5 separate regions of the Homo sapiens genome follow, and all the other regions are linked to region 1. The links come from fine-mapping of genetic effects on gene expression. A gene starts in region 1. Each other region holds a variant in brackets. All regions are shown on one strand. Distances are between the middles of the regions. Region 1 holds the start of SERINC5 (serine incorporator 5). Region 2 overlaps SERINC5 (serine incorporator 5). Region 3 overlaps SERINC5 (serine incorporator 5). Region 4 overlaps SERINC5 (serine incorporator 5). Region 5 overlaps SERINC5 (serine incorporator 5).

Evidence for each region. PIP is the estimated chance that this variant, and not a neighbour inherited with it, causes the effect.
Region 2: its variant is the best candidate, but not a certain one, in a credible set for the expression of SERINC5 in prefrontal cortex (ROSMAP, PIP 0.82).
Region 3: its variant is the best candidate, but not a certain one, in a credible set for the expression of SERINC5 in whole blood (TOPMed, PIP 0.89).
Region 4: its variant is the best candidate, but not a certain one, in a credible set for the expression of SERINC5 in T cells (TOPMed, PIP 0.54).
Region 5: its variant is the best candidate, but not a certain one, in a credible set for the expression of SERINC5 in sun-exposed skin (GTEx, PIP 0.50).

What each region holds. Positions count from the first base shown.
Region 1 is chr5:80,252,599-80,258,870 of GRCh38, forward strand. It overlaps SERINC5 (serine incorporator 5), which reads right to left and starts at 3,450. Exons shown (of 12, transcript NM_001174072.3): 1 at 3,298-3,450. The coding sequence starts at 3,324. RefSeq lists silencers at 2,933-3,212, 3,323-3,762 and enhancers at 3,616-4,549, 4,550-5,483, 5,484-6,272.
Region 2 is chr5:80,190,474-80,196,536 of GRCh38, forward strand. All of the region lies in intron 2 of SERINC5 (serine incorporator 5), which reads right to left. Among named protein-coding and RNA genes, the nearest start is that of SERINC5, 63 kb to the right of the region's middle. RefSeq lists enhancers at 1,292-1,863, 1,864-2,434, 3,007-3,577. The variant A/G (reference allele first, on the strand shown) is at 3,220.
Region 3 is chr5:80,150,473-80,157,075 of GRCh38, forward strand. It overlaps SERINC5 (serine incorporator 5), which reads right to left. Exons shown (of 12, transcript NM_001174072.3): 9 at 410-476. Among named protein-coding and RNA genes, the nearest start is that of THBS4-AS1, 70 kb to the left of the region's middle. RefSeq lists an enhancer at 1,502-2,001. The variant C/T (reference allele first, on the strand shown) is at 2,878.
Region 4 is chr5:80,179,961-80,186,563 of GRCh38, forward strand. The region is part of intron 2 of SERINC5 (serine incorporator 5); the gene reads right to left. Among named protein-coding and RNA genes, the nearest start is that of SERINC5, 73 kb to the right of the region's middle. RefSeq lists enhancers at 3,173-3,993, 5,638-6,459 and silencers at 3,807-4,101, 4,367-4,661. The variant C/T (reference allele first, on the strand shown) is at 3,860.
Region 5 is chr5:80,139,053-80,145,655 of GRCh38, forward strand. It overlaps SERINC5 (serine incorporator 5), which reads right to left. Exons shown (of 12, transcript NM_001174072.3): 12 at 1-4,758. The coding sequence ends at 4,611. Among named protein-coding and RNA genes, the nearest start is that of THBS4-AS1, 59 kb to the left of the region's middle. RefSeq lists an enhancer at 6,448-6,603. The variant A/C (reference allele first, on the strand shown) is at 3,830.

The sequences.
Region 1 (6,272 bases):
TAAGCTGATCTGGATATTATCCTGATGCAGATGGGTAATGGCCACTAATAAGATTTGGGGGGTTCCTCACACTCTGCCAAATCCTATATTACAGACTTTACACTTATCATCACATGTAATTTTCCCAATAACCCTAAGAAGTACCCATTCAATAGTTGAGGTAAAATGAGGTCATAGAGGGTAAGTAACTCATCCAGTCACACCAGTCCTCATTGTCCAGATTTCCAAATTGAAACCCAGGCCTGAGTCCAAAGCCCAGGCTCTTTTATGGGTTACATATTGTTCAGGATGGTCCGCAGTTAAAGAAAGTCACCAAAATGTCTCTCTCCGACCTCAAACTTCTCCCGACCTAAATACCTAATTGGTGACTTGCCATTTCCATTAAATTTATAATAGGCATCTCTAATGTAACGAAGCCAAGAAACTTGGGTTTTCCTCACCAAATGTCCTCTTCCTAACAATTTCCTACTTCACCTCAGTAATGCGATCATCATCTACCCAGTGGCTCAGGCCAGAAACCGAGCCTGTCTCATTCCCACATCCCACTTCTAATCCTTGCTCAAATCCAGTTCTACCTCTGAAATATACCCAAAGCCAATGATGTCCCACTGTACTCACTCCTACAGCCATAGCCTAAATTAAGGTACCACGCTGTCTCCTCCTGGGACTACAGCAACAGCAGATTGCCAGGATTCGAGCTCCATCAGGAAAGGATTTTTGTTCACTGCCGAAGCCTAGAACACTGCTTGCCCCTAAGAGGCAAATATCCACTTAGGTTTTCCTCACCAACTGCTTCATGACCAACTCGAACTGCTTTCCTCACCTCCACTCTAGCCCGTTACAGTCCAGTCTTCACGACATCCCAATTATCTTCTAAGTGCAAATCAAACCACAGCTCGCCCCTGCTCAGAATCCTCCCACAGCCTCTCACTGCAACCAGAATTAAATCCAAAGTCCAAAGGCAGCTGACAGGTTCTGGCCATTTCTGGTCCTGCTCTTCTCTCTGACCTCATCTAAGACACCCCAGCCACCCTAGACTCCCTTGCCTCTCCTCACTGAGCAGTCTCAACTCCACAGGCATCTTCTCAGACTCCCTCGGCAACCCTCCTCAAGGCTGCTTACCACACGGCCTTCTGACAGTACCAGTACCATATTCATTGTTTCATTGTTTACATGTTTATGAATGATCTCCCCTGCCCAGATAGGCCATTGAGAGCAGAGATGCTTGTCTGACTTATGACTATATAGCAGGCTCCTGGCAAAAGGCAGGTGCCCACAGAAACAAACAAGAATTGGTAACTTCTGACGGTGCTGTGAGGTTTTGTTTGCTTTCCTTTCTTTTGAGATGGAGTTTTGCTCTTTTTGCTCATTGCCCAGGCTTGAGTGCAATGGCGTGATCTCAGCTCACCACAACCTCTGCCTCTGGGTTCAAGCGATTCTCCTGCCTTAGCTGTGTAGCTGGGATTACAGGCATGCGTCATCACACCCGGCAATTTTGTGTTTTTAGTAGAGATGAGGTTTCTCCACGTTGGTCAGGCTGGTCTCCAACTCCTGATCTCAGGTGATCCGCCCGCCTCTGCCTCCCAAAGTGCTGGGATTACAGGCATGAGCCACTGCGCCCAGCCTGTTTGCTTTTCTTTTAACTTCCTACCGCCCCATCCACAGGAAATCACAGTGTGATCACCATCACACAGCACTGAGGCCCACCACAGTGATGCCTCCAGCAGGCCTGGGAAAGCAGGGGTTAACTTTGATTTGGTTCTTTCCAAAGTCCTAAGAGGGGAGACTTTAGAAACCTGCTAAAACATCAACAGCAAAATAATTCTTTTACAAAACCCATTTGAATACTGGTAATTACAGAGCTCTAAATTAGGAACTTGGGAATGGCAGAAAGAGCCTCAAGGGGACTTCAAGGGACCAGGACAGATGCCCCTAAAGAGCTGTATCATTACTACGTAATAAAAAGTGTCGCATCATATTGGAGAAAAAGTATTTCAAAACGGGAATAAAAGATTTGCAGAGCTTTCTGAAAACAGTCTTTCCTGGTCCACCTTGTTCTCAAATACCTGGTAAGGTGGTGACCATTCTCATTCTCTTTCTCTCTCTGCCTGACACAGGGAAAAAAAATCATTTCGTCTCAGTCGTCAAAAGCCTCAATTTCCTCAACTCTGAAAAGGCCAGCTTTAATGTATGCCAAGCACAGTATTAGACCTCAAAAACCAAGACAGCTCCACGTGGCCACTCTAAACAGGACAGATTATCTGCCAGTATAATCGCCGGTTACAGAAACCCACAGTTTAACCACTCCATCACTTACAGCTGGCCTCGATTGTGGAAAGGCTGAGTGTCAGCAAGAACACCCCGAACCAGGATGCTCCCTAGAGTCTGATTCGTTCGTGAAAACACTCCATTAAAACTCTGTACCGAAACGCTGATAATCCACATGTAAAGGGAGAAAAGAGCTCCACATCCAAGAGACTCACCTACTTCGTTTTTTCTAACTCTGCAGGAAGGAGTGAAACCAGCATTACAGGGCTAAGACGTACTAATTCTACACTGATGCAGTAACTGGTAGGAGACATAATGTTTTAAGACATCATAGGTTTAAATAGGCGAGAGTTAAAAAACAGGTTCGAACAAGTTTATTTGCAAAGAGAGGCAGGAAGGTTCCAGCCCTACCCAGGCAGTCGTGCTAGTACCGAGCCAGGGTTGGGTCGGGAAATTCAGGAAGCAGGGCTGAGTTTTCCCTTCGCCCAGACCTGCGCCCGGTAGTTTGGAAGTCAGGCTTCGAGACATTCTCAAAGGTACAGAGCCCACGCTCGACTACGAGATGCCAAGCGCAACCTGCCTGGGTTGTTTGACCCGAGTTTTATTCAGGGCATAGCAAAGGAGACGGTGCCTAAACCCACTTTTCTTCCTGGATTCATCCGACAAGCAGAGTGGAGAGGGCTACGGAGCTCAGCGCTATTCACCAGTGCTCGGCGCAAGAGGCGACACGCCCCTGGAGCAGTCGGGATCCTCCGCCCGAGCCCGGCACGCCCCGCTCCACGCGGAGTCCCGGAGGCCGGACGGGAAGACCCCGGGGTAGCCTCTCGGGCTTCCCCCTGCCCCTTCCCGCCCGCCCAGGGCACAGGATTTCCCGGACGGCTGAGCGCCGCGGGGCCAGCCCGAGCGACCCACCCGGGCCCTACGTTCGGCCGCGGAGCTGGGAGCGCACCCAGGCAGGTCCTCCACGCCTGGACTCCTGGCCCGGTTCTCCGATCTGACAACCCCCGCGCTGCGCCCGGCCTCGCTCACCTGGCCCGCACAGCACTGAGCTGACATCGCGGCGGCCAATGCCGAAGGCGCGCTCGCTGGCTCCCCGCGCCGCACGGGCCCTCCTGGCTGCCTCGCGCCTCGAGCGCTGGGCTCAGCCGCAGCTCACACTTGAACGAAGATCAGCCTCGGCGAAGCGCCTAGGCGCCGAGGCCTGGGTAAAAACAACTGCGGCCAAGCCCCGCCCCGCCGCCGGCCCCGCCTCGCCCGCCCCCAGCCCCGCCCCGTGCCCGCCCCTTCCCGGGCGCCCGGCGGCGGAGCAGGCTCGACCCGGGCTCGCACTTCCGCTGGCGTCAGGCGGGTGGGCTGCTGCGATCACTTCCCGGTTGGGGCGCCGAGCTCCGGAGTCGGCCGCCAGCCTTTGGGCCCCACGCTCCGGGTCTGGTGCGCGGTCTGGCCGCGCTCGGGCCCTCGCCAAATGAGAGCGCAGCGCCTCTCCGCCTTCGGATCCAGAGAAAGAGCTTGTTGCTGCCTCTAAAAGGTTGGAGCCTTAGTAAGCGGTTCCTGCCTTTCCTGCACAGACCAGACCGCCGGGTGCTGGTCTGCGCTCTGCCGCGCGCCGACTGGGACAGCCCACCCACGAGATCCTTGTTCCTGAAATCCCTTTCCTTCCCTCATCTGCCAAGAAAACTTTCAACTTTTGGGCTCTCCGCGCCTCCCAAGCTTCCTCGAATCCCTGGGCCCTTGACTGTTCTGCCCTGATGGCACTTGGTGAGAGATCCATTGAGAGCCCTTTCCGTGCCTTCCTGAATATTGATATGTTTTCCAGCCTCTCCTCCTGCGCTGGCCCAAGGACTCATTTTCCGTCCCTGCTTCCTCACTAAAAAGAGGGTGCCCAATAATTGCTTGTTCCATACAGAAGGCAGGGAGGCCGTCTCTAGGTTTTCTCCCACTCAGATCTGCTGTCCTCACAGCCACCTCCCCAAGAGGAATGAAGGTATTTCTTTTTTTTTTTTCTTTTTTTTCTCTGAGACGGAGCTTCACTCTGTCGCCCAGGCTGGAGTGCAGTGACGCGATCTCGGCTCACTGCAACCTCTGCCTCCCGAGTAGCTGGGATTACAGGCGCCTGCCACCACGCCCGGCTAATTTTTTGTATTTTTAGTAGAGACGGGGTTTCACCATCTTGGCCAGGCTGGTCTCGAACTCCTGACCTCAGGTGATCCGCCCGCCTCGGCCTCCCAAAGTGCTGGGATTACAGGCGTGAGCCACCGCGCCCTGCCGGAATGAAGATATTTCTGTTAGTGCGATTTTTGCGCCAATCCCTTTGCTCTTTCAAATAAGCATTACCGTACCCATTTTAGCGGTGAGGCAACTGAAGCCCAGAGAGGTTAAATAACTTGCCCAAAGCCTCACAGCAAAGTTGAGGAAGTAAAACTGGGCCTGGAATCCACTCGTCTGATCCCCTGGCACATGACGCAAGGCTTGACCTTAGAGGGACTCGTTTCCAGACAGAGCTCTGGCAAAGGAGTGTCTTGGGCAGCTTAGGAGTAGAAGAGGAAAGGTGAATGGAAACCAGGCCTTGGGTTATGAGCTGCGCAGGATTTTCCAGCATCTCAGATGCAGGCGTTTAGAGAAAGAGATATAATGGAGCAGGCCCTACTCAGAGCCACGAAAAGGAATGAGGACAGTTGGCTCTAACTCAAAACAAAAATAGGGTAAACCCAATCAGTCAAGCGCAGCAACCTGCTCCGTGGCGATCTGTGACTCATCAGAAGCTGAGGCTCTCACCAGGACTTTCTAATGAGCTTCGCTGTTGGCTACGACCGCGGTCACTTCACTTCAGCCCTACTCCTGGCCTGGGGAAATGGGCAGGCCCCCTAGTAGCTCGGGGTGGGGAGACGGGTGGAGAGGAAGGAGGGGCGAAAAGGGAAGGCGCGAAATCTACAAATGTTTAAGCCAGCTGGAACTCCGATGCCTCTTTGCCTTTTAGGGAAATTGACTCGACTCGGAACTCGAGGACCTTTCACAAGAGACCACTGGGTTAGGGGGCAGAGCTGGTAATAGAATCCAGCGCTCCGAACCCTGAATCATGTCCTCTTTTTGCTGCTGAGGCTCAGGCCACAGCACCCCAAATTATGACTGTAGAATACCAAAATATGCTATCCCAAAATACACTTGTTTGGCACATTTCAAGCTGGTTATTCTGAGAAACTGCAGACACGGGAGTAGCTCTGAAAAGCTGTCCTTTTGTAAAGCAAATTTACATCTATAAAGGAAGTCCACATAGTAAAAGTATCTGTGTCAGGAAGGCAGCTGCTCAGAGAACTTTTATTACATGAGAGACTTTACATAACAAGGCAACTTTTTTTTTTTTTTTTTTTTTTTTTTTTGAGGCAGAGTCTCGCTCAGTCGCCCAGGCTGGAGTGCATTGGCATGATCCCGGCTCACTGCAACCTCCGCCCCCCGGGTTCAAGCGATTCTCCGGCCTCAGCCTCTGAAGTAGCCGGGATTACAGGCGCGCGCCACCGCGCCCGGGTAATTTTTGTATTTTTAGTAGAGACGGGGTTTCACCATGTTGGTCAGGCTGGTCTCGAACTCCTGACCTCGTGATCCGCCCACCTCGGCCTCCCAAAGTGCTGGGATTACAGGTGTGAGCCACCGCGCGCAGCCACAAGGCAACATTATTTACCATACATTTCCTCCACTAACCCTCCTATATCCTACCTGTGGTGCCTCCCCACTGTCCCCACAGAAGCCCCAAGCCCTTATTTATTTCTAGCTCAGAATGCTATAAGCTTCAATCATCTGGCCCTTCATGTTTTGTGAGATTCCTGTGCTGCTGCGTATGCAGGTAATTAAAACGGTTTTTCTTCTGTTAATCTGTCTTATGTCGGCCAGGCGTGGTGGCTCATGCCTGTAATCCCAGCACTTTGGGAGGCCGAGGTGGGCGGATCACGAGGTCAGGAGTTTGAGACCAGCCTGACCAACATGGTGCAACCCCATCTCTACTAAAAATA
Region 2 (6,063 bases), 62 kb before region 1:
ACACATGTATTACAGCCTAGAGTTTGAGCATCCACGCACTCATTCCCAACTACTATGTGCAGGTATTGCTCTAAACTAGGGGGATACGAGCTGTGAATAAAACAGTTTAAAAGTTCATGCTAAAAAGAGCTAACGTTCTACTAGTGAAATGCTGTATGCACAAAACTATGCTCTACTTGATGGATATTTGAAGTATTTTCATGGTTAATTCGGACTAGTCATGATGTTTGCCTTAGGCAGGACATTAGGACCTAATGTTCCCCAAAAGATAGGACTCTACACCAAACCTATAACCTCAAGATTTGAGAGCCCCATTACCTGTTCCCCAGTTCTAGTGATGGGAACCAGTACATGGCAGACATTTAAGTTTCCGGCCCCAGCATCTTTCTTATATCAGACCTGGAATTGAATGATGGTGCCCAGCAGCTGGGGAACTAGGGTGCCCAGACCCTCATTTTCTCCAACCCCACTTCTTCCTGGATCACCAAATGCTTGGTTTGGATTGTTAAAGTTTAGGAGAGGCCATTGTTTTTGACTCCTGCACTAGGCCCCAGCAGACCAGACCGAACCAAAATGAAGCCACTTGTACTAAGTGCCACTGAATTTGGGGGCCAGTTTTCTTTAAAAACAAAAACCAAAAAAAAAAACCACTGAAAGATTCTAGTCAATGTGAGTCTGCCTAATAAGGAAATCCTCTGTTTTAACCTTTTGTTCTGTTTCTGCTTTTTTTCAAGCCTTTTCTGCCTATAAAGACACCCTCCTCTGCTCAGCTAACTGGAACAGTCGTTCTACTTCACATTCTAGAATCACAAATAAAATCCAATTCAACTTTCCAACTAAATTTGTAATTTCGTCCTTTGACAGAATATATAAAAAGATGACTGGCTGGGCACAGTGGCTTACACCTATAATCCCAGCACTTTGGAAGGCTGAGGCAGGAGGATCGTTGCTTTGAGCCTAGGAGTTTGAGACCAGCCTGGGCAACATAGGGAGACTCCATCTCTACAAAAAAAAAAAAAAAAGAAAAAAAAAAAAGAAAAATTAGCCAGGCATCGTGGTGCACATCTATGGTCCCGGTTACTCAGCAGGCTGAAGCAGGGAATCACTTGAGCCCCAGAGGTTAAGCCTGCAGTGAGCCATGATCGTGCCACCACATTCCAGCCTGGGCAACAGGGCAAGGCCCTGTCTCTAAAAAAAAAAAAAGAAAGAAAAAAAAAAAGACTTTTTTTTTTTTAACTTGTAAACAATTTGCCATTTATTCCAAAATGCCATATAGACATAATTACTATTAAACATGTCATACTAATTTATTGCCACATTATTCTTACCTAGTCTACCCACTATGTGGTTCATACAGCCTAGTCAGTTACCTGCAACTTAAGCAAGAACTCTGGTACTCTGAGCACAATGTTCAGGTCACTGACGTTTCCCTTTTGAGAGAGATGGGAGAATAACTGCACATAACGCATATAAGACCATGGAGGGTCTAACACAGGAGTCAGCCAACGACAGCCAGTGGGTCAAATCCAGCTAGCCTCCTAGTTTTATTGGAACATAGCCACACTGGTTGGCTGGCCATGCCATTGGCTGGCATATTGTTTTGGCTGCTTTTGCACTACAAAGGCGAGAGCTGCTACAGAGACCACAGGGCCTCCAGTGTGTACTAGCTGGCTCTTTGTAAGAAAAGTCTGCCCCACCCCTGCGCTACTAGGAAGAATAGATGAGGAGTTGTGGCTAACTGTTAACTGCCTAAGTACAAATGCACATTTCAAAAGCAAGTGACAACTGGTGATAACTTACTCTACAAATCAAGAGCCAAAAGAGCAGCTCCTTTGGGCTGCGGTCCAGCTGTCCCAACCCTCCGCTCCTGCCTTCTCCCATGAGACTCTTCCCTTCCTCAGGGCTGTCCTCAAATGGAACTTGGGCCTTAAGTGAATCAAACTGTGTATCTCCCATATGTCATTTTTTTTTTTTTAGCAGAAAATAAAGTACCTTAATTTATCCACCCACAGAAAGTTTTTCAGATGGGGTGGGAAGGAATGGAGAGAGAATGTGTCTATGAGCTTCCAGCGCTCATCTCTGCGGCTCAGAAGCCATCAATAGCTCGAACAGAAAACGTCCTCACATCTGTCACACAAACACACCCCATGGAACCAAAAATAAACCCCACACTGATGAAAGCCAGCATGTCGAAAGATAATTTTAGATCTATTTGAAGACTGCAGAGACTGTCTCGCTGAAATTTTAAAACCACACCACCAGAATACCCAACCCCTTATGATTATGCTCAGCCCTGATGAGGAGGCAAAAACACTTCATTCCATTTTATAAACCTCCCAGGCACCTCAGCTCTGTCTCTAGAATGGGGAGAGAGCATTCCTGAGTTACCACGTGACTCCGAAGGTCAGCCGAGTCACATCTGAGCCAACACCACTGTCCAATATTCACTAATGGAGTTCACATATTTTTAGCTTTCAGACATACACAGTCTAGCATCACAGGCTCCTTCCAGACACACTTGCCAAACTGCTCTCTTTTCCCCTACCTGAGGGCCAGCTCTATGGGGACAATAACTGTGTGTTACTCAGTGTCTCTGAAATCCCCAGCACCTTTCAGAGTGCTCGCCACTTGCATCTGAAAGAATGACAGCTAGGCAATTTTTTAAACTTTTGAAGAATGAGCTCGGATTACAGTTTAATCAAGTCACAGAATCATCCTATTAAATTTCTATGCAGAGTAAGTATCAAGATTCAGCCATTCACAATATCTATGCATTGTTTCCTGTTCCCATCGCTCTGAGGCTACTTTTTCTTCCATTCTTCGTTGTGCCATTTCTCTGTTCTCTCCAGCCCCATGTTTATGATGGCTGACAATGCTCATTTCCAAAGCTTTTGTCTGTTCTATTTATCTGCAGGCTACTCCGAGGCCCTGTCTGTGGACAGTTGCTTAACAGACGCTTTAGATGACTACAGAAAAAAACGTGTTAGGAAAACTTTCATTCTCACATCTTATCATTCTCTCTCGTCCATAGCCAGACCAATCCTAAAAGAGATCCAGCTGACACCTGGTGCTCCCGCAAACGTGCAGGTAATGGATCCTCACAGACCAAGGACAGTATGTATTGTTTCCAATTTCCTGCCTCCTGGCAAGCTCATTATTACTGGACCAGGATCAAACCTCTTTGTCCTTGGTTCAGGCTCAAAAAAAGACTCTCAGCAG[A/G]ATATCCATTAGTTCAAATTGCTGCCTCCAGTACAAAACGATTTCCCACCACTACTTCCCGACATCCACTTGTATGGGGAAGGATAAGGCCCAGCAATGACAGCTGAGGCATAGGAGGGTACAGGGACTCCTTGCTTTCTCTCACATGTTATCTCCGGATGAAATTTAGACCAAAAGATAAAACCGTTTGGAAACATATGTCTCCAGAGTCATCCTAACTTGGAGGGGAGGGAACTCAGAGGATTTAAGAGGCAAAACCTCAAAGCCAGCTCCCCAGAGGAAAATTCTAAAAGGTCATGGTGAGAATTTTCCCTCAGTTCTACAATGGGCTTGAGGTTCGATGGTCCCAACCCACTTTTAATCTCAAAAACTTCCTCCTTGATAACTTGACACATAAGGTACAACAGTACCATGAACTCAGTTGCTACGCAGAAAGAGAACTTTTGAAAAGCACTCCATCTCAGCTGGATTTTAAAAAAGCATTCCAGAATCAAAGAACTGGGTCAGCAATATTTTCTTGTTATTGTTAATTTGACACTTGTTCTGACACAAAAGCATATAAGCGGAGAATGGAGAGAGTTCTACTTGAGGCTTCAATGTGCCTATGCCAGCCCCTGATGCAGGTCTCAGGTACAGTGTGCTCTGAACATTCAACCAGTAAATATCAAAGGAAAATCAAGAGCCAGACTCTCCAGCTTCAGCATGAAGACCTGTCATTTTACATTGGGACAAACTGCACAGTATTTTGGATCAAAGCGGAATATTTTTCACTGATGATGTTTGTTTTAAAAAGATGGTTATACCAAACACAACCTGAAAACAAGTTCTATTTTACATGTAAAGCCACTGAATAAATAAATACTAGTTTTGTGGCTACCTCTGTTTTCTACTTCAGAATAACAGTCATCCCTTGAGCTCAGCTTTTGGTCATCACAACAGGAAGCAGGCAGATGGGAAATGTAACTAAGCTAAGATCGCTGCTGAGGGCCCCAGGCAGCGCTATTTCCAAAAGTAATACTTCTTACCACTGGGCCCAGAAGAAAGTCTAGAAAGCGGAGGAAGGATATGCTTGATAAAAGGCATTTAACTGTGACTTCTGTGAATATCTGACCAACAAGCAAACCTAGTTGCACAAACAGGAGATGCACTGGCCAGGCGACCAGCAGCCCTGGGTTCTAATCCCAGATATACCTGGTGTCTCAGTTCTGACAAGCCACTTCACTTCCTGGGCCACAGCTCCTCACCTGTCAAACGACAGGTTTGTTAAGATGACCACTTAGGACTTTTCTGCTTTTAAAAATTCTTAACAATGGGCCAGGTGTGGTGGCTCACACCTGTAATCCCAGCACTTTGGGAGGCGGAGGCAGGTGGATCACCTGAGGTCAGGAGTTCGAGACCAGCCTGACCAACATTGAGAAACCCTTTCTCTACTAAAAATACAAAATTAGCCGAGTGTGATGGTGCATGCCTGTAATCCCAGCTACTCGGGAGGCTGAGGCAGGAGAATCCCTTGAACCTGGGAGGCAGAGGTTGTGGTGAGCCAAGATCATGCCATTGCACTCCAGCCTGGGCAACAAGAGTGAAACTCTGTCGCAAAAAAAAAAAAAAAATTCTAACAATGTATTCAAATTATATCCTAAGCAATATATCAATGTAACAAAATTACACTTGTACCCCCATAAATTTATACAAATTTTAAAAATAAATTATATCCTAAAAAGATCATTGTTTTCTCTGTAGAACACTTAACACCACACGTATTTGCTGTCTCTTCTCAAGGCAGAACACTTGCTATACATACGAGCTGCAGCCTTTTTCCACTCATCTCTTTAACTCGCTCCTTTAAGGGGCCTTGTTTCAGGCATTTTTGGATCCCTGGAACCAGTACAAGAAGGGCTTCCCACAAGGAATATTTAATATTATGGCTTCATATTTATTTTAATTCTTCAGTTTAAAAATAGGAAATAAAGTAGCTCATCTCCCCAGTTTCAGAGTTTCAAACATAACGGATCAAAGAACTCTGTCAACTCCAAGAACCACAGAAGTATTTTAACATGTCACTGTAAACAGACTAAAAGATGTGCTTATGAATAGCCTTTGGAAATCCAAGTTGTTTTTAAGTAAAGTAGCCACTGTATTCACCTACAGTCACTACACTGTGGTGACCCCAGAATTTAGAAATAGGGTATCATCTGGGAGAAATGTAGCAAACAGCACCTTCAGCTCAGCCTAACTAACGGGCTAAGTTATCTGGAGAAAGAAGTCTGAGGGCAGCTGGGAACATCTGGGAACTACTCAAGTTCAAACAAGGTAAGTGTAATATGCAACACCAGGGAGGGTGGCATGGCCAAATCACCGTGACTGACTGGAATGCAGAGTGGAAGCCTGAGACTTTTATGACCTGTCTGGGGAAAAGTATGCACAAGATCTAGAAAAACGGGGATGCAGGAAGAAAGAATCTACCAGTGTCCTCAGCACTGTCCTGAGTGAAGGGTGTTTTTACAAGCAGATGCACATATGGGGATGATCAAAGCCAGAAATGAACAAGCTGCCCCAGGGGAAAGCAAGCGAACGGGAAGGGCAGAGGGCAGTGTTAGAGGCACAGGCAAAGAGGAGATGACCACCTCACACACACTATAGCGACTAAAATAAAAAAAAGATGTACCATTAAGTGTTGGTGAGGGTGTGGAGAAATGTGAACCTTAATACATGACTTCATCCTGAATATCCCACATTACTGGTGGGAATGGAAAATGATGTAGCAACTTTGGAAAATAATATGGCGGTTCCTCAAGAGCTTAAAATTACTACACAATCCAGCAATTCTGCTTCTAGATATAAACC
Region 3 (6,603 bases), 100 kb before region 1:
TTGCCCAGGCTGGAGTGCAGTGGTATGACCTTGGCTCACTGCAACCTCTGCCACCAGGGTTCAAGTGATTCTCGCGTCTCAGCCTCCCAAGTAGCTGGGACTACAGGTGTGAGCAACCATGCCTGGCTAATTTTTGTATTTTTAGTAGAGATGGGGTTTCACCATGTTGGCCAGGCTGGTCTTGAACTCCTGACCTCAGGTGATCCACCCGCCTCGGACTCCCAAAGTGCTGGGATTACAGGCGTGAGCCACCACACCCGGCCAGCATTTATTTTTCTATACAAAAATCTTTCCTCAGCAGAAAAACAGGATCACGGAATGCAGACTGATAAAGACACAAACACAAAAGGCCCTCCTGAGAAATGGATCTTCTGAGATGAAGCAGGACAGGAAAAGGAAATGAACTTACCTCCAATTCAGGAGCTGCGTATCGCCCCTGCAGAGCGTCAGAACTCGATCTTGTTGTTGATGTCAAACTAAGAAACAGACAAAAACGTCAGCTGGGCATATTAACACATTACAACACATGGAATGAAGGGGAAAGCCGGCTGGCCAGTGCTCCGACGAGAGCCTCAATGTAACCTACCGTTCAGGAGACTTAAATCAAAGCAATCTATTTTAATACCTCTCCTTATTCCAAAATTGGCTGGCTTATTCTATAGTTGATATCATTTTACATGGATTGCATTAGATCATTTTATGCAAAGAAGGTTGTAGGTAGAGAAGTAAGATATCTTGGTTTTCAGTATTGCTTTTTGCCTCTCCTCCCTCAAATGCTACAATAGTTTTCTAATTTCAGTTTATCTTTCCCTCCCTTTGACTAGTCTTGCTTAGAGGGAATCAAAAGCAACGAGCCCAGAGATGGCAACAGAAAGCAAGGGCATGAAAGCAAAAGTCGCAGTTATTTACTGTGATAGCCTATAGTAGAACAAGGCTTGCTGTTTGGAAGAGTAGCAGTCGAGGTAATAAAAAATTCTGCCACTTCCCTGAGACCTAGAAAGGTAAAATGTTAGACAAATTGCCTTGCATGGGGCAAAATAATTTATTTTTCCTGAAAACAAAAACAGGCCAGAAGTGGTGGCTCATGCCTGTAATACTCTGAGAGGAAGGGGTGGAAGGATCACTTGAGGCCAGGAGTTTGAGAAGAGCCTGAGCAACATAGCAAGACCTCATCTCTACAAAACAAAAACACAGAACATTTTAAGCAAATATATACAATACTTAGGGTTCCAGCTAACTTTACAGATTGATTTAGCAAATATTTACTGAAGGCCACTATGTGTCAGGCCCGATTCTAAGCACTGGGGACTCAGTGACACAGGCAACAATCCTGCCGTCATGTAGCTTCTGTGCTGGCCTGACATGGGCGGGCGTGTTGGTGCTCAAGAAGCTGGTCTGCTCATGGAAAGGTGGGGACACACACTCATCTCAATCCAGCGAACCCCATGAGGCAACACTGCGCAGTCTCATCCTCTTTCCCAAGGAGAGAGATCAATGAGACAGAGATAAACAATAAAAAGCTTTCTCATACAGAAGCCCACTGAGATCCAAGTTCACTGTTTCTTTTGTGGTCCACTCAAGTACAACAGCATCACTTTCATTTCTGCTTTGAACTGATGCATGCTAATCCAGGCCCATGCCACTCCACCTCCTGACTGTGTGCCTGGTCAGAGGAAGACAGAAACATCTCCCAATGACTGCGCACCCAAGGAACACAACACCTAATCCGACATTTAAGAGTGGCCCGGCTGGGTGTGGTGGCTCACACCTGTAATCTCAGCACTTTGGGAGGCTGTGGCAGGTAGATCGCTTGAGCCCAGGAGTTCGAGACCAGCTTGGACAACTTGGCAAAACCCTGTCGCTACAAAAAATACAAAAATTAGCCAGGTGTGGTGGCACATGTCTGCAGTCCCAGCTACTGGGGAGGCTGAAGCAGGAGAATAAATTGAGCCTGGGAGGTTGTAGTGAGCATGATCACACCAGTGCACTTCAGCCTGAGTGACAGAAGGACCCTGTCTCAAAAAAAAAAAAAAAAGAGTGGCACATATCCTGTGCATACAAGTTTTGATTTAGTACAGTGTATAGTTTTCACAGGGGAAAAGATAAGTTTTTAATTTTAAGAAGAGATCACTATCTGAAATTTTCATTTGAAAGGTTAACATTCATTATTTATGAGGCTCAGAATAGGCCAGGTGCAGTGGTTCACGCCTGTAATCCCAGCACTTTGGGAGGCCAAGGCGGGTGGATCCCTTGAGGTCAGGAGTTCCAGACCAGCCTGGCCAACATGGCAAAACCCCATCTATAGTAAAAATACAAAAATTAGCCAGGTGTGGTGGCCGGCAGCTGTAATCCCAGCTGCTCAGGGGGCTGAGGCAGGAAAATTGCTTGACACTCAGGAGGCAGAGGTTGCAGTGAGCTGAGATCACGCTACTGTACTCTAGCCTGGGCGAGAAAGTGAGACTCTGTCTCAAAAAGAAAAACAAAGCCTCAGAGTAAATATTCTACTCTATAAATTCTTTGGGTTAACGTAATTTCCGGAAAACAAAGCTCTTGATTTGGGCTCCTTTGCCACTTCACCATCAAAGAGGCCTAACATGGGGAAGCTTTTGATTTTACTTTTAAAAAGAACTACATTCAGAGCATCATTAATGCCATGTGACTTCTACAGGTAGATGTTACCCTACATTAAGATCTTTATTCAGTTGCCGGGCGTGGTGGCTCACATCTGTAATCCCAACACTTTGGGAGGCTGAAGCGGGCAGATCACCTGAGGTCAGGAATTCGAGACCAGCCTAGCCAACATGGTGAGACCCTGTCTCTACTAAAAATATAAAAATTAGCCGGGCATGGTGGGGGGCGCCTGTAATCCCAGCTACT[C/T]GGGAGACTGAGGCAAGAGAATTGCTTGAACCCGGGAGGCAGATGTTGCAGGAAAAAAAAAAAGATCTTTATTCAGTTGTAGCCTTTCTCCATACAACACTCTTCTTGGAATTATCAAGAAAAGGTTTTTTTTTTATAAGCTCTTAAAGCCTAGGAAATTCTTATTATCTGCATTCAGGCTATTACAAAGACCACTGTTTGGTGAGCACAGCACAAATTGCTATAAAACAATTCCTGGGTTACCTATAAGCCTTACCTCTTCCTGTGCTAAGATAGGTGTGACTTTAACCCAGTATTTCCCGTGGGGATAGGAGGAGACTTACAGCATTGGGTTAAGACAATGCTTTATTGTACGGAGAATGCCTAACACACCACAGCGTGTTTACTGTCTCTGCCTGCTGCCACCCCACCCCAACCCAGCCAAAATGCCAGCAGTGCTCTGCAGTCATGGTGACAGCCAAAAAAAAAAAAAAGAAAAGCCGTGTCCTGTTTCCCTGCAGAACCACTACAGTGCCCAGAACCCCTTCACACTGGCAGAAGAATGCACAATGCAGGTGCCCCTCAACACTGGCACTGCAGATGCTTTTGAAGCTGGCCAAAGTCCACTAGACCACAGAAAATCTCTAAATAACACGTCCAAACTTTCCTGGAGATCACACATTCCGCCTCCCTGACAAACGTACAGGGTAGGCCCTTGACAGATCCCGTGACTATTCCCAGCCTTTGTGCAATGATGAAGATCAGTCATGCTCCCCTGTGCTATAGAACCCAAAGGAGACCTGAGCTCTCTGTGAACCTGGGGCATGGGGTGGAAGATTTCTTTTTCTTTCTTTCCTTTTTTTTTCTGGAGATGGAGTTTCACTCTTTTTGCCCAGGCTGTAGTGCAATGGCTCGATGTCGGCTCACCACAACCTCTGTCTTCTGGGTTCAAACGATTCTCCTGTCTCAGCCTCCCGAGTAGCTGGGGTTACAGGCATGCACCACCATGCCCGGCTAATTTTGTATTTTTAGTACAGATGGGGTTTCTCCATTTTGGTCAGGCTGGTCTTGAACTCCTGACCTCAGACGATCCACCCGCCTTGCCCTCCCAAGGTGCTGGGATTACAGGCGTGAGCCATCACGCCTGGCCACGGGGTGGAAGATTTCTAACTTGGAGATTTCTAGCTGGCAGGCAGGCCAGAGCAGAATTCCCAAAATGAAGACACAAATCTCCCCCTCTCCTGGTGGGGAAGATACAAATTTCCCCACCCCCCCATAAAGGCCCAGAATGTACCAAAAAAATAAATATTCTTCCTTGATTTCCCAACTTTTTTTAATGTAGAACAATCCCCTCGGCAATGCTATCACACCAACCTGCGAACCTCCCCACTTCAAACTAGGAAGTTGTTTGACATTGAATAAAGATTCTTACTTTTTCCAGTTTTATATTTAAAAGGATATTTTCAAAGATGGTTCAATATTAAGAATTATTTTTTCTCTTAAACACAGATAAAAGTGGAATGGTCAGGAAACTTTATAGTGCAAATGCCTTGTAATAATATAATTACGCAAGTCATCCAGTTTATCTTTCTCCCTCAGGGGACATTACACCAAGCCATCTGAAGAAAAAGAGCCGGGGAGAGACTATCCACCAGTGTCCCTAAATACTCCCGAAAAGGAGCCTCAAGGAAAGGTTGCCCGAAGTTGGGAGTAGAGAGCTACAGGTATAGGCTCCATGCTTCCTTACATGTACAATGAGGAGACTGACCTGATCAACTCTGGGATCCTGTCCAGGCTGACAGTCTGAAGTTGAAGGCAACAGAATAACAATTTCAATCAAAATCCAGAGACCAAGGGAAGAATTAAGAAATAGTTCGTGGAGGCCAGGATTTGTCACAGCAAAGCTCCAGACTAAAGGGGTGTGGAGGGATGCGCCTATAGAAAGAGCCATCAGGGCTGGCCATGGCGGCTCACGCCTGTAATCCCAGCACTTTGGGAGGCCAAGGCGGGCGGATCACCTGAGGTTGGGAGTTCGAGACCAGCCTGACCAACATGGTGAAACCCCGTCTCTACTAAAAATACAAAAATTAGCCGGGCATGGTGGCGTGGTGGCACGCGCCTATAATCCCAGCTCCTCAGGAGGCTGAGGCAGGAGAATCGCTTGAACCTGGGAGGCGGAGGTTGCAGTGAGCTGAGATCCTGCCATTGCACTCCAGCCTGGGTGAAAGAGCAAAACTCCGTCTCAAAAAAAAAAAGGAAGAAAGAAGGAGAGAGAGAGAGAGAAAACCATCAGAATGCCAGGTGTCATGGTTATGCCTGTAGTCCCAGCTACTTGGGAGGCTGAGGCAGGAGGATCCCTTAAGGACAGTTTACCCAGCCTGGGTAACATAGTGAGAACTTGCCTTAAAACATTTTTTTTTATCTAAAAAAATAAAAAGAGCTATCAGAGAACTCCCACAAGTGGACCAAGGTTAGGGCTTACATGGGGTCCAAGCTATGATGTTCTTTCACAGCAATGATTCCTGGGTGCAATGGAAGGAGGCTCTGGAGAGAAGGCAGCCCCAGGCAGAAAGGCAGGGAGTAGGTTTGGGTTGAGCCCTTCTTCTGAGCTGAGGCTACAAACATTAAAACATACTCCTAGAGAGTACCCCAGCTGCAAGAGTCAGGATGGAGATACCCCAAAGGAAACAAGTATTTGGGGGTGGGGCTTGGGGGCTCTGGAGGGCGAAGGGAAAGAGAGGAGCTAGGGAGATTTCCAGTCTTCTACAACTTTACAAGAGTGGACCCCAGGCAATCTTGGCCTTCTTCTCCTTTTAACTTACATACTATCTATAGTCTCTGGCTTCCTGCAATTTCTATCAAGAATCCTAGATATTCCTGCAATTATGTTCAAATGACAGTTCCCACACGGACGATGTGGCCTTTTTGTAACATCCTCCAACCTTTCATTCCTCTGAGTCAGGAAGGAAAACAAACTCTTCAGAAGTCCAGATCTGAAAAAACCCTAGTTGGGCTAACTCCCACCCCTACAGCATTCCTTTTATTCCCAGGCCCTACAAAGCCTGAATTTAGTGTTCTTAAAGCTGACCCCTCGAAGAGCTGCAGTGAGTAATTACAGCAAACATCAATCACATGGACCCCGGGGGAACTAACTCCTAGGGGGCCCAGCCCACAGAGTGTGCTCTTGCCTACAGATTACAGAAGTACGCTACAGAGCAGAGTGGTCATCCTCATCTCCACTTTGTAGGGGCTGCAGTTTTATATGTTCTCATCCCACCATACACTGCAGTTTTGTGGTTTACGAATTCAATAACAATGTTTGTTGCTGGTATTTAGACAGATTTTTTTTTTAGTAGCTATCAACTTTGAAAATTGACATCTTTTGGGAATATCAGACCAGCCCTTACCAATCTCCACTATGGTACCTCAGTCCTGTAAGAAACAACATTTTATTTATCATCTCTCACTCAAGGGCCAACTCAGAAGAATTCTTTACACCTGCTAGAAATAGTGAGAAAATATGATAGGGTGAAAATTCCATGTTGTGAAATGCCCTATGTGTGGTAACCATTATGCAGCAGGCTAAGAAGAATTTTTGCCATCTTTTCCATTGAAGGGTTTATGGCAAATCCAAACTCTACTTTATTTAAAGGGTTTTTTTTTTCTTTTTTTTTTTTTTTTTTGAAATACAGTTTCTCTCGTTACCCAGGCTGGAGTGCAATGGCGTGATCTCAGCTCACTGCAACC
Region 4 (6,603 bases), 72 kb before region 1:
TAAGGTACATCTTCCTTATTACTAGTGAGATTCAGCATCTTTTCTCAAGTTTATGGCCATCTGTTTTTTTTCTCTGAATTGGCTGTTAATTGGGTATTTTCTTGATCCACTGGAGCTCTTTATTAGTGGGTCTTAATCTTCTGATAAATGTTGACAATAGCTTATTCTAGCCAAATTAGAAGACTTCCACATGAAATAATCAGTTTCATTATCAGAATAATTAAAATCTTACACAATGAGAACAAGCAGCACATTCCTAGTAATGTCATAAAATAAGGATTTGGTCAGTCATAAAAACTTGCTTCTTATCAACATCAAAGTTGAACACTCTTCTGAACAGAAAATAAATCACATTATAACTATTATTCATAAGAAAAATAAAGTATCACAGAGAAAAAATAGCACAAAACTGAAGGTAAAAGGAAAGTGTGATAAAGAAGATAATTTACAGTTTCTTCTCCAGAAAAAGATACTGAAGAAACAATAATATCTGTGGCTATCACGATTTCCATAAACAAATGTCAACCCAAATGAGAGACTGAGGCAAGAGTCTCAATGGGGAATAATTAAGCCAGAGCTTGAGGGGCTGCTGAGAAACACACAAATCACAGAATCCTCTGTGGCTGGCGCTCCCAAAGAGGTTGCTCGGTATTTACCCATTTCTTTAAAGGGGAGAAGGCATGCAGGAAAAGGGGGCAGGTGGTGAGGCAAATGCAACATTCTCCTGAGATTTTAACTAGTGCCCAGTAAACTCCGCTATAAAAGAGATATGATAAACATTCAAAAAGGGAGTAAAGGAAGAGTTAATTATGTAGTCTCAGGGTAGGCAGAGAAATGACTGCTGTCCTGTCTTTGTTCTGCACCTGGGAAGATAAGCTTGTAATGGGCATTGTCAGTGTGAAATGTAACAGACTGCAATTCCGTGGACAGGGAGCTAGACTTAGATTGCAGACCTAAAGTTACAGCTGACATGTCCTTTTTTATGGGAAGATACACATCTTGAAAGGTTTAGGGACCAGCAGAGAATTTACTTATGAGCAATTTGAGGGCAGTCATCCGGGATGCACGAGGCCTTCTGCCTTCTCCAGGGGTGTGGCTAATGCATAGCGCTTTGACACAAGGTTGGGAAGTCGCAGCTATCTACTGGGCAGGGGGGCAAGGTGCGAGGGGACAGCAGCAGTGTCACGTGACTGTCTCTCCAGTCTTAAGTTTCCATTTGGCATAAAGAGTTTGGGCAGTCCTGAGAGGGTTTATTTTCCTTTACACAAACAAACAAAGAGTTCCATTTTCTCCCCACTCCTTTTTGAGACAGGGTCTCACTCTGTACCCAGGCTGGAGTGCAGTGGCGCAATCTTGGCTCACTGCAACCGTCGCCTCCAGGGCTCAAGCCATCCTCCTACCTCAGCTTCCTGAGTAGCTAGGACTACAGGCATGCACCACCAAGCTCAGCTAATTTTGTGTGTGTGTGTGTGTGTGTGTGTGTGTACAGTTGGTGTTTCACCATGTTGACCAAACTGGTCTCGAACTCCTAGACTCAAGCAATCCACCTGCCTCAGCCTCCCAAAGTGCTGGGATTACAGGTGTCAGCCACTGTACCTGGCCAGCTCCATTTTCATGAAGACATGTGAAAGACTTCATGAGGAAATAGCCAACATTTTGTTTTCAGCAAATTCCTAAAACTGTACATTTTTTATGACTTTTTTTTTACACCATTTTGTCACAACAGAGACAAGATGTTTTGCTTGATAAAGACTGCATCCAACCAGATAAGTAGATAAACAAGCACAGTCTTCAACTATCAGTCCTCACTGGAGGACTCTGTGGCCATAAAAAGGGTAGGTACGGTTCTAACTCGTGACAAGCACCTGGCATCTGCCCCGAAGGCTCTGCCCACATCAAAGACTGTTTCTTGCACAACCAACCAGATTAACCAGCCCAGACCAGGAAATTCTTTTTTTCTTTATTGCTCTCCCTGGACTACTTCATTAACCCTTTTCCTATTCCCTTTCTCTTAATGTTAAATGTTATTTTGTTTGTTGCACAATGTTTAATCAGTAACATTTATATATTGACAGAGTATACGATTGTGTACGGTTTGCAATACTGACTGGCTGGTGCAGAGGCTGGAACCTGTGTGCCTGCAGATCTAATGAGTGGATGAGAAGTACTAAGAAGAATTGGCTCCCTGGGAACTCCACATAGCTGGTGGCTTTTGTAACTGAAATAGCATCAGTTAAGTCCAACATTATGGAAAGACACAAATGTTCGTGGACCTGGTTACCTCTGACCTTGGCGTCACTCACAAAAACCAAGATATGCCACCCTAAAACATTCTTCTTTGCGTATTTCAAGCTCGTTATTCTGAGAAGCTGAAGACACAGGAGTAGCTCTGCAAAGCTGCTGTTTTATACAAAAAATTTACATCTGTAGAGGAAATCTACATTAGTAAAGTGTATCAGACGTTTATTCACCATACATTTCTTCCCCTCACTCTCCCATTACGTGTTGCCAGCAACTCCCAGAGGCCCCAAGCCCCTATTCCTCTCTGTAGCTCAACATGCCATAAGCTTCTATCATCTGACCGCCCCCCCCCCCTCCGCTTTTTTTTAATTGAGACCTCTGTTGCCCAGGCTGGAGTGCAGTGGCGCAATCTCGCCTCACTGCAACCTCTGCCTCCCAGGTTCAAGTGATTCTCCTGCCTCAGCCTCCAGAGTAGCTGGGATTACAGGCGCCTGCCACCACGCCTGGCTAATTTTTGTATTTTTAGTAGAGATGGGGTTTCACCATGTTGGCCAGGCTGGTCTTGAACTCCTGGCCTCAAATGATCCGCCCACTTCAGCCTCCCAAAGTTCTGGGATTACAGGCGTGAACCACCATGCCCAGCCTATCTGACCCTTTTTAAAATTGCTTTTTCTCCTGTAATTGGTCTTATGTCAATTTAATTTGCTTCCAGAGAAAGAACCTAGAAGAGTGGAAGGAAGCCATTTTTCCCTTCTCTACAAAGGCAAGGTCTTGCTGGGAAGGGCCAGGTGCATGCCAGACTTAGCAGTCAGGCCCCCATCCTGTAAGCAAGGGGAAAAGCACTACTGAAGCTAGAACACCTTTGGCTACAAAGTGGAAGACGTGGTGAAAGGGTACAGACTTGAGGCAAGGGGACAAGTTTGAAGGCCACTGGGAACAGGTGAAGAAGGTAACCCCAGGCAGAGAAACCAGAGATTCTGCAGGTAGAGCTCACAATTGGCAGGAGAGCACAGATGACAAGAATGAAGCACAAGAATGAGACAAAGCTGTTTTGTTTTCTTCTTTTTTTATGGCATTGCCGTTTGGGGTGGAGGGAGGGTGGAGGGCAGAGGACAGACAGCAGAAGTGAAGAACAAAGCAGGAGTTTGCTCTTTAACACCTTAGGGCATCACCAAGGGGTATCCCAGCGAGAACAGTCTGGTCTGGAAATTGCTTTAGAACAGCAATTGGGGCTGGATACAGGAAGTGTCAGGCCTCTGAGCCTAAGCCAAGCCATCTCATCCCCTGTGACTTGCACGTATCCCCTGTGACTTGCACGTATACGCCCAGATGGCCTGAAGTAACTGAAGAATCACAAAAGAAGTGAAAAGGCCCTGCTCTGCCTTAACTGATGACATTCCACCATTGTGATTTGTTCCTGCCCCACCTTAACTGAGTGATTAACCCTGTGAATTTCCTTCTCCTGGCTCAGAAGCTCCCCCACTGAGCACCTTGTGACCCCCGCCCCTGCCCACCAGAGAACAACCCCCTTTGACTGTAATTTTCCATTACCTTCCTAAATCCTATAAAACGGCCCCACCCCTATCTCCCTTCGCTGACTCTCTTTTCGGACTCAGCC[C/T]GCCTGCACCCAGGTGAAATAAACAGCCATGTTGCTCACACAAAGCCTGTTTGGTGGTCTCTTCACACCGACGCGCATGAAAGGAAGCACCCGCAGGCGGGTAATGAGAAGTCAGTCACACAGGTGCTTTCTGGAGGAACCTCAATTTTTAGCTGTGTTTAAACATGAGTGATGAAACAGCATGGTTAAAATTTTCAGGTGCTGAAATATGGTAGGGGACACACACAAAAATGAATGTTTCAGAGAGTCTAACCCAAAACAAAAGTTACACCTGTATGAGTAGTGCCAGTAACGAGGAGGTAATATTGCTTTGAATCTCTAAAAGCTACATTCATGGAGAAGCCATACCACTTCATTCATTAGGCTGTTTCATTTACACAGGATTTATTGCTCTAAAACATTCCCTAAATTATTTTCTTCCCCACCTTCTCTCTTCTACTCCATCAGCAACTCTAATTCCTGAACCACATCTTCCCCATAACACATGCACATTAGCACCTCTTTCATCTATACCAGCCCATCTTTCACCTTTAGACCTTCTCTGCCTCCCTACCTCTTTTTTCTTCCTCCAAAATCCATTTCAAGGAGAATGCTAACAGCAGCAGGCTGAGCCACCATCCCCAACAAATCCCCTCCCTTGTTTGCTTACTCCAGAATCTGGAATGCGGCCAGGGCCCTTTAAGGCTCATCACAGGGTGAGTACATTGACACTGTATATTCATCAAAAACAGGTAAACAACCCCCCTGCTCCAAATCCTAATCAAGACCTCCTTTATACTCTGTGGGTGACTTAGCACATTTAGTTTTCAGTATGTGGTAAGTATTTTTGGGCAAAGAACCTCCAAGGTGAACAAGCTAGCAGGATTCTGGCAAGGGGAATTTGCTCCGATTAAATATTTGCTGTTCCAAAGTCCACCCCATTTTTGGAAAAAGAAAAAATACATCACATACAAATTCCACACCACAGGGTGAAAGGAATGTGCCTGCTAAGGGTGTTACCTCTTAAGTCTGGCTCTGGGCACCCAAGGACAGGGCACTTAAGCCAGGCTCACACACTGTATGTTGTTTCTTTTTTTTGATGCAGTCTTGCTCTGTTGCCCAGGCTGGAGTGCAGTGGCGCAATCTCGGTTCACTGCAACCTCTGCCTCCCAGGTTCAAGCGATTCTCCTGTCTCAGCCTCCCAAGTAGCTGGGATTACAGGCATACACCACTATGCCCAGCTAATTTTTGTATTTTTAGTAGATGGGGTTTTGTCATGTTGGCCAGGCTGGTTTCAAACTCCTAACCTCAGGTGATCTGCCTGCCTCGGCCTCCCAAAGTGCAGGGATTACATGCGTGAGCCACCGCATGCAGGCTGTATGTTGTTTCTATACAGACCCCTGAGAACAAGGCGTTTCCCTCCAACCCTCAAAGCAACCAAACTCAAAGCCACAAACTATCAAGTAAGAATAAACAGCTCATAAGACTTCCATTCCTAACTCCACTGCTAACTTGAGCTAGCTACACACATACACACCCTGAGCCTCAGTTGTGCCATCTGTAAAATGAAACAATACCGACACCCATTTCATGGAGTTGCCTGAGAATTACATCAGATAACACCTGTGAAGTGCTTACCACGGTTCCTAACCCATAGTAGTCATTAAGTTAACTTCTTTAATTCTAAAGCACTATTATGTTATATTTCATGCGCGTCCGTGTGAAGGGACCACCAAACAGGCTTGTGTGAGCAATAAAAGCTTTTAATCACCTGGGTGCAGGCGGGCTGAGTCCGAAAAGAGAGTCAGCAAAGGGAGATAAGGGTGGGGCCGTTTTATAAGATTTGGGCAGGTAAAGGAAAATTACAGTCAAAGGGGGTTCGTTCTCTGGTGGGCAGGAATGGGAGTCGCAAGGTGCTCAGTGGGGGAGCTTTTTGACCCCGGATGAGTCAGGAAAAGGACTTTCACAAGGTAATGTCATCACTTAAGGCAAGGACCGGCCATTTACACTTCTTTTGTGGTGGAATGTCATCAGTTAAGGCGGGGCAGGGCACATTCACTTCTTTTGTGATTCTTCAGTTACTTCAGGCCATCTGGGCATATACCTGCAAGTCACAGGGGATGCGATAGCTTGGCTTGGGCTCAGAGGCCTGACATTATATAAAAATAATTTCGGGGAAGAGACTCAGGTACATTACATGATCCACAAACTAATGCATTCCGATTTAAACATGGTGGGAAACTGAACATCTTAGAATTAGTAGATGCTCTATTCACTTTACCAAAGGATCTACTACCTTTGGATTGAAAGATTAACTTTCTTGTTTTGAAAAAAAAAAAAAAAAAAAAAAAAAAAAAGACAGAGTTTCACTCTTGTCGCCCAGGCTGGAGTACAGTGGTGCGATTTCAGCTCACTGCAACCTCTGCCTCCCAGGTTCAAGTGATTCTCCTGCCTCAGCCTCCCGAGTAGCTGGGATTACAGGTGCCTGCCACCATGCCTGGCTAACTTTTTGTATTTTTAGTAGATATGGGGTTTCACTATGTTGGCCAGGCTGGTCTCGAACTCCTGACCTCAGGTGATCCACCCGCCTCGGCCCCCTAAAGTGTTGGGATTACAGGCGTGAGCCACCGCGCCCGACCTGTCAGTAAGGTGAATCTTTCCTTGGTACATTTATATTAGAACTGAGGTCCAAAAAATAGCACTCACTACTTGTCCTTCAGAGACCTAGCCACCATCCAGAAGAAAGCATTCTGAACTCACAAATT
Region 5 (6,603 bases), 110 kb before region 1:
AATTCGAATCATATCAGAGACCATTATAAATTTCAAACAGTAGATTTACCACACATATTGCATTTTCAAATTCTAATGTAGCAAAACGTAACCACATAATTTGGCTACAGCTAATCGTTTCAGAAAAGTTTAAAAAATTAGCAAAGTTATATCTATAAAACTTTTGTAGTTTTCTTTTTGCAAAGTAAAAAGGCTTAAATCTTTAATAAAGGAAAACAAAACAATCCTCTTAAATTTCTTATAAATAGCTCTCCAGACATATATTACAAATCTGCTGTAAGCTTTCTTTACCTGAGAGAACTTCCCAGGATCCTTTATCCCAAAGGATTACCTTAAAGAGTTCTTCCATCATTTTACTCATGTGAATATGATTAAACTCCTATAGAAGTGGATTGGGACATATGCATTCTTAATCTGCCCTTCCCCATTTGTTTCTTTCTGAAAGGATTTTGCTTAAGGAAAAAAAAAGCTCTTTGGTAAAGGCCAAATATTTCAACCTTTCAAAATGACTGCCTCTGTGAAAGAGTTGTTGAGAAAGAAGAAAAGAGAGAGAGAGAGAAAGGTCTAAACATCTGTGTGAACAGCTCTCCAGTACTGTGAAGTCAAAGGCCCAACATTACAGAGCGCACCTCTGCCTGAAATACAAAACTAAGTTAACTAGCAAGTTACAGGAAATAGCCTTCAGTAAATTCCACAAGCCAAGTGGCTACTGCATTGTCCCTGAAGAAGGAGGGCCCAGTGTTCTTTCTGGGTGTGTAAGGTCTTACTTAGTTCAAGGTTTGTCCCTTCTTAGTTGTAGGTTGGGCCCTCTTTCGTTTCCAAGAGGTATAGGACACTAGAGTACACCAAATGAGATACTATTTGGAAAGGCAATAAAGGGAGTGTAAAAGCCTAGGTAGCTTAAATACAGGCTCTGGAATTTCCTTCGCAGGAAGGTGAAGCACCAATGATGGCAAAAATTAAATAAATACATCATCTTAAAAAGGCAGAGGGTAGGCTGCGTGCAGTGGTTTACGCCTATAATCCCAGCACTTTGGGAAGCCAAGGCGGGCACATTGCTTGAGCTCAGGAGTTTGAGACCAGCCTGGACAACCCCATCTCTACAAAAAAATAAAAATCGGCCAGGTGTGATGGGGCAAACCTGTGGTCTCAGCTACTTGGGAGGTGGTCCTTGAGCCCAGGAGGTCAAGCCTGCCATGAGTCAAGATCATGTCACTGCACTCCAGCGTGGCTGACAGAGTGAGCCCGTCTCCAAAAAAAAAAAAAAAAAAAAAAAAAAAGGCTTAGGGTGACAATTTTGACATGGGGACAGGAAATTAACATTACACTGAGGTTATTCATAATAAAGGATCTTCTGAGGAATCGGAAATAAACAATGTTGTATGGAAACAGAACCCCAAAACCCCAATAACTCCACCCTCCCCACAACCCACCCCCACTCTATCTCCCCTTCAAAGAGGCTCCAAATACCTCTGGCAAATAATTTCTTTTTCAGACAAAATGAAGAACCTTTTTGCCCAAGAAACTGTGGGCAAAAATAAAACTAACCAATCAGTATTTAAAAAGCTAGACACAGTAAAGACGTGGTTGGGTTTCTGAAGGCTTATAATGGAAATAGTCTCTAGTCTCCAGTCAGGTAACATGCCGCGGTATGACACTCCCATAAGAACCCCCACCCCCCTGCCACCCACTTAGTGTTTTTACTCATAAAAATGAGGGGAAAACTTTTCTACATCAGACAAATCACACAGAGGAAATATTCACATGCAGCTTTAAAAAAGTCCTCTTCAACTGTCATCCCTAAATGTGTCTGACCAGCAGCTTCTGGGAATATACTCTTTAGGTCATGTACAAAAAGGTGTAGGAAGCAAATGTCTATTATTTTTAAAAGATATCAGTGAGTTAATCAAATTAACACCGTTGTTATAGGAACTCAAAGCCATTGGCACAATGTTTCCAGTTTCTCAAATCACAATTGCACAAAACTGTAGATTCTTTAAATCCAGGAATGTTGACTCCTCACCTGAGTATTGTATATCACAATTAATAACCATTAACATTAACTCTGCATTGATAGTCCCTCAATCCTCAGATACATCCACATCTGTTTTGTTCATCCAGATACACGTGCTAACATTTTCAGCTGAGAATAAAATTCAGAGCAACTGTAACTCTTCCTCTTGCATCAGACCAACCGGCAGAAGGGAACGGGATGTCACAAACCAGACTCACGCATCTGGAAAACGTTGTGTGGCTGGGCTGGCTCCAGAAGGAAGCGACGAGGGCCTTCTACCGGCCACACTCCCTTGCTTGGGCTTCCCTAAGCTGCTTTCTGCAGAGGAAAGGGCCAATCACGGCCAGCCAAGGAATACAAGGCCTTGTCAGCTGGACCTTGACTGCGCGTAAGGTCAGTTTCTCAAATCACACCAGCTGGCAGCCAGACCCAGCCGAGAGGACAAAGCAAGGGCTCTGCTAGACCTCAGCAGGAGGAAAACAATGAAACTAGTCACAATACTGCCCAGGCTCTTTACCTGCTTCCCCTCAGGGTGTTTCCTAAAGACAACCCCCAAGGCCCTAGGCCACTGCAACACAGCTACTGTGTGTGACACGCAGCCCCACTCCCTGAGCCCATTCCTGGCCCACGGAACTCCTGTCCCCTAACTGATTCCTCAGGTTAGAACACGGCTTTTCATTTTGCGACTCCAGATGAATCTTTTAACTGCTGAGTACAGAGCTCCTGCCCTAAAAAAGGAAATTTAATGGAATTTACAAAACAAGGCTCTCTAAACCACACACACAGATGGAGTGCCTTTTGAAACTGAATCTCAAACACTCTAAGTAGGGAAAGTTCTAAAGGAATTCATCCCCTGTAATTTGTTTCCCCATGGGTTTTCTTGGGAGAAGGGCAAAGGAATGAATAGAAAGAATTTCACTAATTTCACCCACCAGCATTTTGGCACACAGAAGCCCAGCTTAGGTGGCACTCAATTCTGCCCAACTCATACAGTAGGGCACAGAAAAAAATGACTAGGCTGAGCCTTTTATTCTTAGATCCTCACTTACAGAGAGCTCGAGAAGATTCTTTCCACCCCGAATGAAATTCTAACAGGAGTTTCCACCAAGTAAACCTTTTCCCTGCCTGAATACATCAACACTGAAAATAGGCATCATCTTGGGTAGCTGCCGAAAGTCACGTTTCTGTATTACTTTGCAAGTACGTATTTTGGAAATTCCTGTGCAGCGTGATCTCGGCTCACTGCAACCTCCGCCTCCCGGGTTCAAGTGATTCTCATGCCTCAGCCTTCGAGTAGCTGGCATTACAGGCACACGCTACCATGCCCGGCTAATTTTTCTATTTTTAATAGAGACAGGGTTTCACCATGTTAGCCAGGCTGGTCTTGCAACTCCTGACCTCAAGTGATCCGCCTGCCTCTGCGCACCTCTTTTTAAGTATATTCGGCCACTTCCACACATTGCCTAACAAGCTTCTTCTGGTCAGTGTGTCTGAGATCCTCACCTCAGAAATTCTCACATTAGCAAACCTACTCCAAGGATGCCAGCATGAACCTGAACGGTATGGTCACGTTACAGATCCAGAACACAAAACGACTTCCGCTTTTACAGTTTCAAAGGCCTCAAGGTGGAGAAAAAACTGAGGGGCTGACCTCAACAACTGAAAGAGCAGTGCATGCAGCAGGCTTCAACACGAAGCAGCTTTTCAGTTAAGGTCCTAAAAGTATTATCATTATCAACAGCACAAACAAGTAAGAATGATAGCCCTCCATTGCTTAGGCAGAGAAAACATGAATCTTGTTCTATAATCATGTGA[A/C]TAACACCATAAATAAGCGCCGTACTTATTGCAGTAACTCGGATCAGGTAGTGATAATAAGGTGGGGAACCACCTGGGGGGTGATCAGACAAATTGTGCTTTTTCACATTATTACAAAGATGTGGGACCCAGAAAAGATGAGACCTCGGGGAAGGGTGCAGGCAGAGAGTGAAGTCTGTGATTCCCAGCATCACAACCTCAAAGGGAAACGTTTAGGGGCCGTGAAGAGGCAGCACTGAGGGTGCAGTTGAAAAGCAGGTGCCTCCTCTTGGACCCTATAAATACCAGGGGCCCTGCAGGCTGAGTCCTGTCCTCAAAGCCCCCTGGGGACAAGGCTCTAAGAGGCGGAAGTGAGTGAGAGGGGTCTGGATTCTGTTAGGCGCTGGGGACTCAAGATTTTGGCATGTTTTTCTATTCCGAGGATGAGAATGACTGGCCCCACAAGATATTTTTATCCCTGTGAAAAGATGCTGTGCCCCAAATTCTGTTTTGGCAAAAACATGCAGAAGGAAGTCAACATAACTGGTATCCAGTTCCTAGGGGTAAGATATTTCAACCATGATCAGTTTGGTTGAAAATTTCAATTCCTTTGGGACAAACTGGTAGTTTCTTTTTGAATTTCAAAAGTAAAAAGCTAATCAGGAGATTTTTTTTTTTCTCTCTCAAAGCTTTTTCAGACCCACTCAGGCACAGGGCGCCAGTCCCTGCCCCGGGGACACTGTTCAAAAGATGGCACTTTCCAGGCTGTAGGCCCACAAAGCCCAGGGGACCGCCGATATCATCACACAGAGAACTCCCGGGTGGGGCAGCAGAGGGGAGCGACCAGCGTACACAGGTACAACAGCACGCATATCCAGCAGGAGGCCATCTTGACCCAGAAGATGGACCAGCTCCCGCTGAAGAAGCTCTCGATGTTGGCACTTTCGTAGCTGTGGAAACAAGACACCTAGCCGCGGTCAAAGCAGGAATATATTGAGATACAATTCACTAATTCACATCCATTTATAATGTATAATTCAACGGCTTTCAATGTATTCATACACAGACTTGTGCTACCATCAACACTACCCATTTCCAAACATTCTCATCACCCCCAAAAGAAATCATGCACCCCTTAGGTGCTCTCCCCTTCCCCATGGCCCCCTCAGCCCACCCCCCGCATTCACCAATCTACTTTCTGCCTCTATGAATTTGCCTATTCTGGACAGTTGATATAAAAGGAATCACATGGTCTCTTGTGTGTGGCTTTTTTGCCTGGCATACAATTTCCAAGGCTCAGCCACGCGGCAGCATGTGTCAGTCCTTCATTCCTTTTTACTGCTAAATAGTATCTTATTGTATGGATAGAGCACATTTTGTTTAGGCAGTCACCAGCTGATGGTCATTTGGGATGTTTCCCCTTTTTGATTATCACCAATGATGCTTGTATGAACACCGCTGTGTAAGTTTTGTGGACCTAGTTTTCTTTTTGTCTTAGGTATACGCTCAGGAGTAGTGGAAGAGCTGGATTACATTGTAACTCAATGTTTAATTGTTTAAGGAGATGCCAAACTCTTTTCCAAAGCAGATTTCACATTCAAACCAGCAATGTAAGAGGGTTCCAATTTCTCCACTTCCTCGACATTTGTTATTATCTGCCTTTTTAATTATAGCCTTCTCCATCTTTTCTTAAGCTTTCCAAGCCAAAAATTCCCAGGAGTTCCCAAAGCATCACTGGGAAGCATTAAAGCTCCCTTCTCCTCTCCTCCTTCAGGAAGAATCTCTCCAATCACTGTGCTTGAAACCACCACTCCCACCACCCCTACCCCAATTCCCTCTCCTAATTTTATTTTTCTCCCCAATACTCATCACCATCTAACACACCATATTTGACTTGCGTCATAGTCTGTCTCTCCTGCTGGACTATAAATCCTGCCTCATAGAACCGTGTGGCACATAGGAGCCACTTGCACATCTGTTGAATGAATGATAAAAGGAAGCACAATGAGCCTACATGTCTAAGCTTAACTTAGTGGTCAAAAAAATTATGATACAACCAAAGCTGTGGACCTGTAGAAAAAGTATGAACCTCTGTGTAGTGCCAGGGAAGGCCAGGTCAATCATGTACTGCCAAGTTAAAAAAAAAAAAGCCTCCAGGGGAAAACATGTATAATGACATTTATGTTAAAAAAAAAATTAGCTGGACATGGTGGATCATGCCTATAATCTCAGCACTTTGGGAGGCTGAGGCAGGTGGATCACAAGGTCAGGAGTTCGAGACCAGCCTAGCCAATATGGTGAAACTCCGTCTCTACTAAAAATAATAAAAAAAAAAATTAGCCAGTGTGGTGGCAGCACCTGTAATCCCAGCTACTCAAAAGGCTGAGGCAGGAGAATCACTTGAACCCAGGGGCGGAGGTTGCAGTGAGCCGAGATTGCGCCACTGCACTCCAGCCTGGGTGACAAAGCAAGACTCCAACTAAAAACAAAAAAAAACTACAGAGGTTTATAAATGCACAGAAAAGGAGAAGGATACACATCCTAGCAGTGGTTATCTGTGTGGGGGAAGTAGAGGCGGGGGGGTACCACATTGTTACTTTTCATAATTCCACATTTAGTTTGTATTTTAAAAAAAGATGTTTCCAATTTTTGTAATGAAAATGAAGAAAAATGGGGAAAAAGATACACAAAATTTGAAGTAGAAAAAAAAGGGATATTTTCTCTTTCTGAAAGGCAGATGAATGCTTAGGAGTTCCTATTTTTCCTTCATTACCATGTTTTCCAGACTGTCCATA